Linked DNA regions of Homo sapiens. The protein of the gene in region 1 purifies or fractionates together with the protein of each later gene. This does not show direct contact. Each region holds a gene or a part of one and is shown in the gene's direction. Other genes may lie near its edges.

Region 1 (3,500 bases):
TGATATTTTAAATTTGTGACATTCTATGTACTTAAGACTACTGGATAATACAAGTACAATATTATGCATTATTCTTAATATTACATTATCGCCTTCTCCTTTCTTTTGAGTTCAAAGGTCAACTATTTGACCCTTCATTGTATTATATTTATTTTATTTTTGCATCAAAATTTATGCCATTATTTAGGACACTGTAAATCTTACAATCTTCTTTACTTGTTTATGTATTAGGTAATCTAGGTTTACATTACTCATGCAAGAGCATTTATGATATAAAATTATTCTTTCTTTATCTTCTCCATTCTACCCAAATCTTCAAATAATCTATATTTATTAAAATATTATTTTATGTAGTTTTTGTTTTGAAGCACATTCACGGGTTTACTGTTGGCCTTATTAATGTGCTCAGGATTTTTATTTTTTATTTCATGATTTAATCTTTTTTGTCTTTTTATTTATATTTAGTTAACCCTCCTTGAGCTTAGTGTCTGCTTAGTAAAGGATGTTGGTTTGATTAAATTCCTTGGTTATGTAATCAGTGCTTGATTTTTAGTGATATTTTGCATAATATTTATATTATTTGTTTAAAAATACCAGTTGACTAGGCATAGAGTGACTAAGTTCTCTAGAAGAGTAGGTATAGTCTAGGACTGAATCTGAAACCCAGAGGAGGCTATTAAAATGTCAGAGTTAAATCTGTGTACAAGAGTAACAAATATTTCTACAGAATGGATTATGATTAAACTTCCAACAAAGGGGGACTCTGTGACATTTTAAGGCAATGTAAGAATGGTAAACATTAAATTAAAATTCTTCTCTATCCTGAAGACTATATAAGAACATGGGTTCTTATTTCAATTGATAAAAGTAGAGAGTTACACTTTTGGAACAAATGGAAACAAATTTACAGGCTTTTTTTTAAATAATTCAATTTATTTTCATTGAATTATTGATTTAACAAATAGTTCCTTAAGGAAAAGAAAAATAGAAAATAGAGCAATACGAAATCATGACAATAAACTTCAACAATTTTAAAGTGTGTAGCAAGAGAAAAAAAAGCCAGGAATAATAGTTAATGGATGCTGGGCTTCATACTTAGGTGATGGAATGATCTGTGCAGCACCGCACCATGGCACACGTTTACCCACGTAACAAACCTGCACATTCTGCACATGTACCCCTGAACTTAAAAGTTAGAAGAACAATAAAAAATAAAGTGTGTGGAAATTGAAGAGACATCTATAAAACTAGGGAAAGAAACAACTTGCAAGCTTTAATTTAGTGTTATTATTATTATTTTTAAAAGTAGACACTATTGGAAAGCAAATCTAAGGATGGCATTGTATATGCAGAACAGAAATGTGGCTTAGAACGTTGTTACTTGAATCATCAATTCCAAATGCAATCCACATACAGTCATCTGCTGATTATTATTGCAAGGGGAAACCCAAATAATACACTGATATTAGTAAAGAAATTATCTTGCTTGTCTCTGAACTGCATTTAATATATCACACTCTTACGTTTGCCAATTCTTGGTTATCCTTGCTTAACTTTGTGACTGGTCCGCCATTATTGCCTGCAGCAGGCTATCATCAGCACAGACCCACTGTTGATTGCTAATTGCAATTTGGAGTTTTAAGGGAGAACATATCAACTCCATCTTTTATTCAAAGAGAATTAAATGTTGACTTTATAGTTAGATAATTTCATGTAAATTTAAATTCAGAATGTATTTTATTAGCTGTAAGCTGTTCAGAAATCAAAATTGTGATGTTTTTATTTTATAATATAATTTCATATTTATATATATTTTCAATTCTCTTGTTTAATCATTATATATGATGGTGGTTCTTATTATTTACAGAGATTAATCCAACAGCCCCTGTAGAAAAGCCTTATCTTACAAATCAACCAGGAGACACCCATCAGAATGTGGTTGTTACTGAAGCAGGTAATTACTTCATGTGTCTTTAACTTCATCAAGAACTGAACTGTACTTTCAAACGCTGCTTCATGTTGACCCCAGTGAAACTTGTCTTGCCTGGGGAAGTGGTTCACTAAGTATGGTCCTATGGACATTTACTTTTGAACTAGGTTAGAAAAAATTATGCTAAGCTAGTATTTGAATAGAAAAACCTGTTTTGTTTTCTTCAGAGTGGTACTAAACTAAGTGATCCACATTAAAATTTGGATCTGGCCAGGCACAGGGGCTCACACCTGTAATCCCAAGAATTTGGGAGGCTGAGGCAGGTGGATCACTTGAGCCCAGGAGTTTGAGACCATCCTGAGCAACCTGGTGAGACCCCATCTCTGCAAAAAATACAAAAAACTAGCCTGGCGTGGAGGTACACACCTGCAGTCCCAGCTACTGGGAAGCTGAGGTGGGAGAATCACCTGAGTCTGGGAAGTCGAGGCTGCAGTGAGCAGTGATCATGCACTACAGTCCAGTTTGGTCAACAAAGTGAGACCCTGTCTCAAAAAAGCAAACAACAACAACAACAACAACAACAACAAAAAAACACCACCAACAACAACAAAAGAACTTTGGATCTACAAGAAATTTCTCTAACAACATGTAGGCGTCATGATGCAAATTGGCACATTCAGTGGAGAGCAAACAGGGGTGGGCTGGTAAATGTTTAGGGATTGGTTGGATCCTTAAATTGCTTGAAGTCAAACAGGAGTGGGAGGAAACAGCAAATTATCGCTCAGATACCCTATTGCTCATGAGTTTGTCTTCTGTTAACAAATGAAGTGATGCGCAGTTAAATGTAGATAAAAGCTTTATCTACATCTGGTCCACTTTGACCAGAATTATTCAGATTAGTCATGATGATGACTTTTAATTTACAAGCTAAATGCATAGTTCTTGAATTTGCTTTTTTTGCATAGACATGATATTAAGGCTTAGTGCTTTTCACTTTTCAGGTGCCTGGTTTTAAAACCATTCAGAACATCTAAACCTAATTACATATGTAACTAACCTGCACAATGTGCACATGTACACTAAAACTTAAAGTATGATAAAAAAAAAAAAAAAGATCAGTAGGCTGGGCGCAGTGGCTCACACCTGTAATCCCAGCACTTTGGGAGGCTGAGGCAGGTGGGTCACCTGAGGTCAGGAGTTCGAGACCAGCTTGGCCAACATGGCAAAACCCTGTCTCTACTAAAAAATACAAAAATTAGCTGGGCGTGGTGGCAGGTCCCTGTAATTCCAGCTATTTGGGAGGCTGAGGCAGGAGAATCACTGGAAACTGGGAGGCAGAGGTTACAGTGAGCCAAGATTGCGCCATGCACTCTGGCCTGGGAGACAGAGCAAGACTCTGTCCCTCCACAAAAAAAAAATATTCAGTAATCACATTAGAAATACTTTTTTCTCTTTTGAAATTGAGCAGATGTTTATTAATTTTAAGTTGTATGGAATTACAGTGTCACGGTTTTTTAATTTTACTAAGAATACCTAGCATTATCAAATGTGATGGAACAGGATTAAAAAA
Region 2 (3,324 bases), on another chromosome or scaffold:
TGTACATTTAATACTGAAAACATTATGTTTACTATTTATAAGTGTAAACCATAGTGTCCAATAAAATACACAGATAAACACACACACACACACGCACAATTTCTCTCACAATAATAAAATCCCTTAATAATTCACACCTTTAAAATATTTATACTCAAATATTTTGTCAATACTTTTCTATAGTCAGTTCATTATTTGTCTTCTTTATGGAAATTCCTAAGTAAAAATAGTGGCAAATTGGTCTTTTAACTAGAAAAATTACAAAATCCTCCTATCTAAAAAATGATACTACCTCCAGGACGTCTGCAATTTTGTAAATTTTTCTTCCTTAGTAGACAACATACTTCCTGGTAAAAGAAAGCCAAAAGATGGTAAACCTCTTTGAATTGGATTCTTCTTTGATCCCAACCCACTCTAAATTTTGGTAGCTAGACCTTTAACTTGAAACGATCAAATTAAAGACCCTTTCAAATATTATACATGCTGCCTTAATTATTATTTAGTTGTATCTCCAACATCTTTGGGGGAGCAGGAAGGAAGGGGGGGTAACAAAAACTTCATTGCTTCAGGTAGGTATAAGTATAGAGGTCAATCACATTTTTAGTTGTACATCAAAAATAACTAACATCCATTAAATTATAAAACTTCTCCAGCCCTATTCACTATTTAATTGGGTATGGAGTTATTCATTTGTATCACTCTTATCATTGCCTGTGTAGAATATACTTATTATTAATACTATTCTACTAATTTTTCTATTATTTCCAATTCTGAATTGATAATCCATGGCTTTTATTTCATTGCTTAACAATGTTTGTATCCTTTATTTAGCAAATAGTTTACACTGGCCTATTTTGTATCAGTCAAGATTTTTCTCAGGTAACAGCTTTATTATTATTTTTATTTTAATTAACAAAGGTAGGATTACATAAGAAAAGAAAACTAAAATTATGAAAAGGGACCTTAAAGCTAGTGTTTCTAATTTTATGGACATTGCCATATATAATCTAATCAAAGTGGAAGATTCGTTTTTGTTGTCTATTTTTGTACAAAATGATGCCACTGAACTCAGATGTCTTTGTTGACTTTGCTTTATTATATAGCCTGAATAAAAAGTAATGAAATGTAATTGGTATATAAATTAAACCTCAAATATGAAGGCTGTTAACGTAGGTGAGAAAAATGATATGTATGCATTTTCTTTTATTTGTAAGCATATTTTCTTTTAAAATTATTTCACAAATTACAAATGTTCCTACTAATAGGAAAGCCAAATATTATGCACTAGTGGTACTTACTGGAAATTTTAGAATTCATTTATTTATATTTACTACCTCTTGCATTTATGCTTTTCTTTCTCTAAATTTGTAAACTGTAAGCTGAATATATGTTGCTGAATCTATGCTATATGACAAAACATTTTTAATCGTTATATTTTTACTAATGCATCAAAGGGTTGGAATGATCCTCTTCGTGTAGTTTCATCTTTAGGCAGAACTATATTCTTTGGATTGAGGCTTTACTTGAAAGCCTATTTTTTTAATGTTCTAGAACTTTATTAGAAAAGTTTAAAAGAGCCCTCACAATTTAAAAAACTAATTTTATTGTTTTAAAATGTTTTAAGGGTTTATCCCTAAGAAATTAAACAAGCACAATCTATTACTTGCAATTTTTATTTCACAGCACATATTGCTAATAAATGCCATTTTAAAAGCAAAAGAAAATCTATCACAATCGTTGCAAGAGATATTTAATAAGGAAACTAATGTAAATCATGCTTCATGCTATCTGTCAGTTAAATCAAGATATAGGTGAAGATTTAGGTTTTATCATGTGAATATTGTGTGGTAGTGCACATTAATTTGTATTTAAATCTTTACATTGTTATCATTGCATGTGTTCACTGTATTTTTTAATGTGTCACTGTTTTCTCTTTATAGATTAGTATTTCAAAGTAACCATTCCATACCAATTCAAACTACCATCTGGTCCCTAAGCTTGTTATATGAAAATCTTTTATCATTGTCTTCCATTGTAAGTGTTTTATGATGAGCTACACCTGAGTTGTACATTTTCTTTTTCTTTTATTTGCTTCTGTATACAGGCTGGCTTAGCAGGAGCTCCAGCCCGTGCTGTATCAGCTGTAAAGAATATGAATCTTCCTGAGATCCCAAGAAATATTAACATTGGTGACATCAGTATAAAAGTGCCAAACCTGCCCTCTTTTAAATAAAAATGTAAAAAGGCCACTCCCAGGTAAAATCCAGGGGGAAGAGTCATCTAAGTTTACCATGCAGTTGTTTACCAAAAATAGAGGAGGAGAGTCTTAACTTTTGCTCTTGGATTTAAGTCAAGGTACTGTATAGAAGTTGTGTAAAATCAGTATGAAAGTTCAATGTTGCTGTTCTTGCTCAGTGATTTTAAAGAAATTGAGTAGTTCCTATGTGATTTTTTTTTTTCTTTTCTAAACTGCATTCCTGTGCCCACCTACGGCATGCCTCTATGTATTGGCTACTACAGTGTTTTAAAAAGTGTTTCAGATATTTCTCTAATTATGTACAACCTAAAATGTTGGTGTTTTGTATGGATCACAAGTGCAGCATTCCTTAATTCCTTCTGCTATATGTCACACAGTTGTTATTTGGAGAACCAAGTATGTATTGCATGAAAACATTATGACTTTTTTCTCTTAGTTTAAATAAACTCCAAGGTAACTGGACTTCTAAAGCACCTTTCTGTTTGCCTGATATCTACTTTAGCAATAATTTTTTTTACAACCCTCTGACTCAACAAAGTAAATAAAAGTATATTTTATCACTATTAAGCAGATGTTAATGTCGATTTATTTTTTACTCATATTTTTAATATTCAGAAACTCAGTAAATTATTCGGAAACTCAATTATTTCACAAATCAAGAGCAGTGTATCTTAGGCATATTGCGCAAGATGAGATCTGGAGTGGGGGGGCGACAGTCTTTCTAAAATGTATATTGAGAAAATGTAAAATCTTTTTTATACAAATAGCTTTAAGCCTTGCCTCTTGTTCCTTCTTGCCCAGATGGTAAAAAATAATTTCAGCCAATACCTAATTGATTTTGAATACAAAAACCCTTGGGACTCTACTTGTCTGTTTCATCCTAAAACAAAGTTAAACTAATGTTTTCTTAAGTCCTAACACTCACATATTCTAGTTTCTTATAATTGGCCCACATTTTATTTGGTCTTCCATGAACTGTGAGTGAGGTTACTTTTCCAGTTAGACTAAGGTTTTCCTTACAGTTCTAGTTCTCCTTCCTCAAATATTCTCTTTGAAATACTTCCATA
Region 3 (3,500 bases), on another chromosome or scaffold:
GATCTGCAGGCTCCTGGCCTTGCTGTCATCTTACCATGTTCTTCACCTTCAGGGACCTGCAGGGGAACAAGGACCCAGAGGGGATCGTGGTGACAAAGGTGAAAAAGTGAGTAAAAAGCAATGCTGCTTGACCCTGGTGGACTTCCCAGGTCCCCCAAGGCCCCACCATGTGTTTAAGGGCCTGGTCACCTCTTAAAGAGCAGCCAAGGGACAGATGGCTCTTGGAGAAACACTGCTTCCCATTGATGCCTTTTTCTCTTTATGCCAAGGGTGCCCCTGGACCTCGTGGCAGAGATGGAGAACCTGGGACCCCTGGAAATCCTGGCCCCCCTGGTCCTCCCGGCCCCCCTGGTCCCCCTGGTCTTGGTGGAGTAAGTATCCTTACTTCCCATTCCTTCAGGCTGTCCCTCCAGAAATGTGGCTTTTAAATTGCTGCTTGCACTTACCTGGCTGGCTCCCAGGGCTGCCAGCAGTGTGTACATAGCCTGTCCATGGGCTTTGCCCTCAGGCCTGTAATTTAGAAGAGTCACATATTAGGCATGAGACTGTGGTGCTAAGGGCTGGCTTTTTTCACTAACTGGGATTCTATAAAGAAAGTCCTCAGTTACCTGGCTTCCTGGCATCTGTACCACGTAGTTGATGCTGGGGGGTGGGTGTAAGGGATAGGAGGAAGGATGACTGGGCACTTGTATTTCCCTGGAAGACGAGTGACCACTGTCCTTGGAAGACATTTATCCTTGGTTCTTGCCAAGTACATTCCAAGCAACTATTCACTCTCATGAAAGAGCTCCACTGAGTGAAGGTGTGTGGCTAAAGTCAATTCTGGAATCAAACCAATCAACAAATTATATGATTGCCTAGTTTTTGCAGGTTTGCTATTTTGATGTTTGCTGTATTTTAAATTCTTAAACTCAAATGGGATCACAGATGCCTACTACATCTCTTGCTGAAATATTCCAAGACTGTTGATTTTAGTCTTTTGCTGGGCACTAAAGTCTTAAAGAATAAAGAACACCCTTAGAAGGTTTGGTTATGTTTCTCCATATACGTTAAATAACATCTGTCATATTTTAGAGCATAAAAATAATTTTATAAAATGAAATGCAAGGAACTGATACTTCCTCAAATAACACTTTCCCTTCCAGTGAAATGATTTTGCCACTGTCATCTAATAATCCATTCCCAAAATTACTTTCCAGGCATCAGTGGTAATTCTGATCAATGATAGGTTAGTCTCCAACAATCAGAGTTTATCTCAGTAGAGTTCTTTGTATCCATATAGAGCTTACCTAGCCAAGTAGGGAAGACCTAGTGCCTTTCAACCTCCTAACGTTGTTGGGTTTCTTTGCAGAACTTTGCTGCCCAGATGGCTGGAGGATTTGATGAAAAGGCTGGTGGCGCCCAGTTGGGAGTAATGCAAGGACCAATGGTAAGAAAAGACACTAGTTCTTTGCAGCCAAAATGGCAGGAGGTGGCCCTTAGCAGAGCCAGAGAGTCTGACAACCTCTGCTTTACAGATAATTGCTTAGAGTGGCTCTCCTCCGTAGTTATGTAACCTCCCATTCAGCTAGCCCAAAGCATTTGGTTTTTAATGGCAATGGATGCCACTTTTAATGATGCGCTGGAGTGACTAAGAAGAATGAAGATGGGGAGATGCATATAGGCTGATCTGTTAGAAGACCAGTTGCTATTGCTCTTGGAATGAGAACTGAAGAATGCAGACAGCAGCTACTGTTCTCCAGCATCCACAGACTTCCAGCAGGAAATCTCAGCCCGCAGCTCTGACTTGGCACATGCTAAATGAAACTCAGCCTTTAGTAAACATGGCTGCTGTCCAGGAGAAAGCAAGGCCAGCTTTTCTGTCCAAATGGTGCCTATAAATAAAAATAGAGTGTTGCGTGGGGAGTGGGAAATGAGAGGGAGCAGCCACTCTAGGCCCCTTGCCCACAGAGTAACTTCTTGTCCTTTGCCCGGGCTGTTGGCTGGGAGAAGATGGCACACTGGAGGCCACTGAGGAAGCATGTGTAGTAAACCCCTCATTTTCTGTTCCGATGCAGGGCCCCATGGGACCTCGAGGACCTCCAGGCCCTGCAGGTGCTCCTGTAAGTATCTGCAATTCTTTTTGCCTCCATCGTGTCGCAGATGATTCCCAAGCACTATGATGTTTTAGCAGTTTATAGGGATTGACCTGGTATCCTCATTTTACTTTTTAGGGGCCTCAAGGATTTCAAGGCAATCCTGGTGAACCTGGTGAACCTGGTGTCTCTGTGAGTACCAGCACGGCCCTGTCCCTTCTCTGGGGGAGCCTCTAATGATAGACCACTAGGACCGCAGCTGCTGTCCCTCCCAGGCTCTGCCCAGCTCTTTCCCACAGTCGGTGGCCCCAAGGAAATTCGGATGTCACTTCCTAGCTGTGGAGGAACTCTGACAGACAGCCCAATGTGGCAAGGACCACCAGGGACTCTGTCCTAACAGCCCCCTTTCCGGGTCACCCCAGCCTGTGCTATCTGCTGCGTCCCACTATGATCTCTGCACCTTTGCTCTGACCTTCCCATCTTTCTTCTTCATAGAAGAACTGGCTTCCAAAACTACAATGTCAAAGTTTTGTCCATTGCTTAGGTGTCTTCCCACTATAACCATCTCTTAAACTATCTTCCTTTGTTTGTAGGGTCCCATGGGTCCCCGTGGTCCTCCTGGTCCCCCTGGAAAGCCTGGTGATGATGTGAGTATACACGAGTAGACAAATGAGGAGCTGCCTCCTTTGAAAGGGCCTGGAGAGGGTGTGTGCTTGGGGAGTGACAGGGAGGCACCCAGGGTGGAGGTATCTTGAGGAGCAAGACTGGGCAGTCCCAAACCCTGACGCCATCTCCTATCTATATGGCCACTGTGACTGTGCTGGCAAGTTCCCTGGGGACCGCTTTGGATCCAAGGGGAAGACAAATAATTAAAACATCATTAGCCCCAGGAAGGGAAATTGAGAAATGAGAGAAGGGAGAGAAAAAATACAAGGCAGAAAGATGTAGAGAAGGAAAAACAAAGAAAGAAGCGTTCAACAACCCAGCATTATCTTAATTGTAAATGAGTTAGAAAAAGCACAGCCTGAGTCAGGATGTCTACAAAGGATGCAAACGAAATGAAGAGACAAGAATTGGCACTCTTGTGCTATTTTTATGAATTGCATTAGACAGTAAAAGTCTCTTGAGGTTAGAGAGAGCACATACAGTCAGCAGAACCTAGGAGAGGAGAGAAAAAGCCTCTCAGGGGAAGTTGGAGGCTGGTGAGGACAGAGGAGCTTGCCCATGGGCTATGCATGTGTCCAAAAGAATAAATGGTGACCCATGAAAGGCATCCAGGCACGTGGAGTCTGAAGGAGGTGAGGGAGATGAGTGAGCCGGTAGGCAAAGGCATGGAGGGCTGGAAGGAGGGAAGCCCTCTGGGGTGCCCCCACTATGCTACTGCGTCTCTGAGGAAGCTGGGATATCTCTCTCTCTCCCTTCAGG
Region 4 (3,500 bases), on another chromosome or scaffold:
AGGCAAATTTCATTGGACCATAAGGCTCAAGAATAATCCTTTGCTGGCCAGGCACGGTGGCTCATGCCTGTAATCCCAGCACTTTGGGAGGCTGAGGCAGGCAGATCACGAAGTCAGGAGTTTGAGACCACCCTGGCCAATATGGTGAAACCCTGTCTCTACTAAAAATACAAAAATTAGCCGGGCATGGTGGTGCGTGCCTGTAGTCCCAGCTACTAGGGAGGCTGAGGCAGAAGAATCACTTCAACGCAGGAGGCAGAGGAGATTGCAGTGACATGAGATCATGCCACTGCACTCCAGCCTGAGTGACAGAGTGAGACTCCATCTCAAAAAAATAATAATAATTAAAAAAAGAATGATCCTTTGCTTTGATGCTCTGCCTTCCAGGCCCACTGCAGTAGCAGAATCACCCTACTGCTCTGTGGGGTGGCCCTGCCCCTTCCTCTCTCTGCAAGGGCCCCACCCTCTGAAACCAAGGACGACATAGCATTGCCCCCTGGGCTTATGGTAAGAGTGACAGCTCTGAGGATCTGTGATCCCCTTTGGCACCATTCTTTCCTTTTCTTGAGGAATAGGGCACATTCACAGTCAAGTAGCTCATGGTTTTCTCTTGTGGAATCAAGGAAGTCCAACAGCCTTCGTTCATTCTTTCCCACTTACTCTGTCCTCTTTACTTCAAACTAGCAGTGTTTCTGCTGTTATAATCCCTTATCTATCACTGGCTTCTGCTGAGATGGCTGATTAACATCATGGATAATCTATTTATAGAGTCATTGTTCAACCGTACCTTTGGTCTTCTCTCTAGAGCAAGCTTTCTTATTTTTAGCAATATGGATAGGCTGAGAATTTTCTACATCTCTAAGTTCTGGTTCCTTCTTGCTGAACAATTCCTTCTTCAATTCATCTGTCTCCTCTTTCATTTTTACTATAAGTGGTCTAGGAGAAACCAAGCCACTTCCTCTACACTTTGCTTAGAAATCTCCTGAGATAAATAGCCAATTTCATTTCTCACAAGTTTTACCTTCCATAAAATACTAGAACACAGCCAAGTTCTTTGCCACTTTATACTAAGCACCAGCTTTCCTTCAGTTTCCAGTAACTTGTTCCTCATTTCTGTATAAATCCTCACCAGAATAGCCGGGCATGGTGGCTCACACCTGTAATCCCAGCACTTTGGGAGGCTGAGGTGGGCGGATTGCCTGAGGTCAGGAGTTCAAGACCAGTCTGGCCAACATGGTGAAACCCCGTCTCTACTAAAAATACAAAAAAATTAGCTGGGTGTGGTGGCGTGTGCCTGTTAATCCCAGCTACTAGGGAGTCTGAGGCGGGAGAATTGCTTGAACCAGGGAGGTGGAGGTTGCAGTGAGCCAAGAACGCACCACTGCACTCCAGCCTGGGCAACAGAGCGAGACTCCATCTGAAAAAAAAAAAAAGCCTCACCAGAATTGCCCTTAATGTCCATATTTTCAGTATGTGCCTCAAAACTGTTCCAGCCTTTGCTTATTACCCAATTTGAAAATCACTTCCACATTTTAGGTATTTGTTATAGTAGTACCTTGCTTCTCTCACTACCTAACCCACCATACCTCATTTCTTGATACTAAAATTTGTTGTGGTCACCTCAGGCTGCCATAACAAAAATACTATAGTCTGAGTGGCTTGAACAACAGAAATTTTATTTTCTTACAGTTCTGGAGACTAGAAGCTCAAGATAAGGTTCTGGCTGATTGGTCTCTGGTGAGAGCTCTCTCCCTGGCATGTAGATGGCCACCTTCTTGCTGTGTCCTCATGGGGAGGAAGGAGGAAGAGTGAGCTCTTTGGTGTCTTTTCTTCAAGGACACTAATCCTCTCAAATCAGGATGTCATTCTCATGACCTAATTTTACGTTAATTACTACCTTAGAGGCCCTCTCTCCAAATACAGTCACACTGGGAGATAGGGCTTCAATTTACGAATATTGGGGGGACACAGCAGTGGTCATGTGTGGAGTCATGAAAAATCGAATCAACCTGTGCACATATTCCCAGCTGACGTTGAACAAGGTCATGTTCTGCCTTTTTATTTCAGCTCTCTACTGTAAACAAGTGTCCTTTTCACAGTCTTTATAATGCCACTTTTTTTTGCATTTTTGTGCTTTTTATTAGTGTTCACCTGTTCTTCATCACTTCAACCAGTTTCATTTTCTTATAATTATCGGAAATTACCTTATTTGTGTGTTTGTTTGCATATTAATGGTCCCTTACTCCACTAAAACATAACCTCCAAGAGAGCAGGGACCTTCTCTCTTATTTACTATATTCTTCTCTCTTATTTACTATATCATCCCCAATGCCTGGAACAGTAAATAGCATATAGGAAAGGAGGTGTCAATTAATACTTGCTAAATGAAGAAACAAATACTCTAAATAAAACAACTTACTTAGGCATTGCTTCATAAAAGCCTCTTGTTTAATCCAACCCTTACTAGATAGAAAAAAACATAGCATTGGAGTCTTTTGTTTGTTTACATTTGGGTTAGTTTCCAGATTCTTTTTGATTTGGGGATCTTAAGGTTTATATATTGGTTTATTTTTCTAACTTCACTGTTTATTTTTTGCTTTGGGGGGGGCTTTCTTTTGAAAGGGTTTTGCTCTGTCCCCCAGGCTGGAGTGCATGGCAGGGTTTCACCACGTTGGCCAGGCTGGTCTCAAACTCCTGACCTCGTGATCCACCTGCTTCGGCCTCCCAAAGTGCTGGGATTACAGATGTGAGCCACCGCGCCCAGCCTGAAGGTTTTTTTGTTTTTTGTTTTTTGTTTTAGGAAACATAAAAAGAACCCGGAAGGTAAAATTGGTATATTTAATTGACAAATGTGTTGTTTTACCAAGACTTTTTCTTTAAGCCTTTTCAGAATGTTTTACAAAGACTTTAAATGTGCTTTTTATCAGTAAAGACTGTGTACAGTGGCAAGTTAAAGAAAATTATAATTATTCCTTTTTCTTTTTGAATTACTTTTTTTTTTTTTTTTTTTTGAGACAAAGTCTCACTCTGTCGCCCAGGCTGGAGTACAGTGGCGCAACCTCTGCCACCAGGGTTCAAGAGATTCTCCTGCCTCAGCCTCCTGAGTACCTGGGATTACAGGTGCCTGCCACTGTGCCTGGCTAATTTTTGTAGTTTTAGCAGAGATGGGGTTTCACCATCTTGGCCAGGCTGGTCTTGAACTCCTGACCTCGTGATCCACCTGCCTCGGCCTCCCAAAGTGCTGGGATTACAGGTGTGAGCCACCGCGCCCAGCCTTTGAATTACTTTTTTAAAGTTGAGAAATTATCAAAGCAGAGTCCGTTTTAACTTTTAGTGATTATTGCAGAAAGCACTGGCTGAACAGCTTTGTAACTTTCCAAAAGAAAGCCATACTTTAGACAGTTGGAAATAAAGCCCTGGGTTTTAAGGTTTTTTCCTGTAATGGACTATGGTTTTTCCAATGCTATGTTTTTTTCTATCTAGTAAGGGTTGGATTAAAG

What was found. The genes of interacting proteins can lie anywhere in the genome.
Region 2: the proteins of CHODL (region 1) and AP3S1 purify together in Homo sapiens (affinity purification with mass spectrometry; one large-scale study listed by BioGRID and IntAct). This does not show direct contact.
Region 3: the proteins of CHODL (region 1) and COL2A1 purify together in Homo sapiens (affinity purification with mass spectrometry; one large-scale study listed by BioGRID and IntAct). This does not show direct contact.
Region 4: the proteins of CHODL (region 1) and RAD51C purify together in Homo sapiens (affinity purification with mass spectrometry; one large-scale study listed by BioGRID and IntAct). This does not show direct contact.

What each region holds. Positions count from the first base shown.
Region 1 is NC_000021.9:18,258,333-18,261,832, forward strand, and holds part of CHODL (chondrolectin isoform a precursor), read left to right. Parts: intron 1-1,867; coding exon 1,868-1,954; intron 1,955-3,500. UniProt on the Homo sapiens protein: May play a role in the development of the nervous system such as in neurite outgrowth and elongation. May be involved in motor axon growth and guidance.
Region 2 is NC_000005.10:115,911,258-115,914,581, forward strand, and holds the end of AP3S1 (AP-3 complex subunit sigma-1), read left to right. Parts: intron 1-831; coding exon of another isoform or gene 832-879; exon of another isoform or gene 880-2,098; intron 2,099-2,104; coding exon 2,105-2,233; 3' UTR 2,234-2,824; downstream 2,825-3,324. UniProt on the Homo sapiens protein: Part of the AP-3 complex, an adaptor-related complex which is not clathrin-associated. The complex is associated with the Golgi region as well as more peripheral structures.
Region 3 is NC_000012.12:47,994,477-47,997,976, reverse strand, and holds part of COL2A1 (collagen alpha-1(II) chain isoform 1 precursor), read left to right. Parts: intron 1-52; coding exon 53-106; intron 107-269; coding exon 270-371; intron 372-1,351; coding exon 1,352-1,429; intron 1,430-2,057; coding exon 2,058-2,102; intron 2,103-2,213; coding exon 2,214-2,267; intron 2,268-2,668; coding exon 2,669-2,722; intron 2,723-3,499; coding exon 3,500-3,500. UniProt on the Homo sapiens protein: Type II collagen is specific for cartilaginous tissues. It is essential for the normal embryonic development of the skeleton, for linear growth and for the ability of cartilage to resist compressive forces.
Region 4 is NC_000017.11:58,706,102-58,709,601, forward strand, and holds part of RAD51C (DNA repair protein RAD51 homolog 3), read left to right. Parts: intron 1-3,500. UniProt on the Homo sapiens protein: Essential for the homologous recombination (HR) pathway of DNA repair. Involved in the homologous recombination repair (HRR) pathway of double-stranded DNA breaks arising during DNA replication or induced by DNA-damaging agents.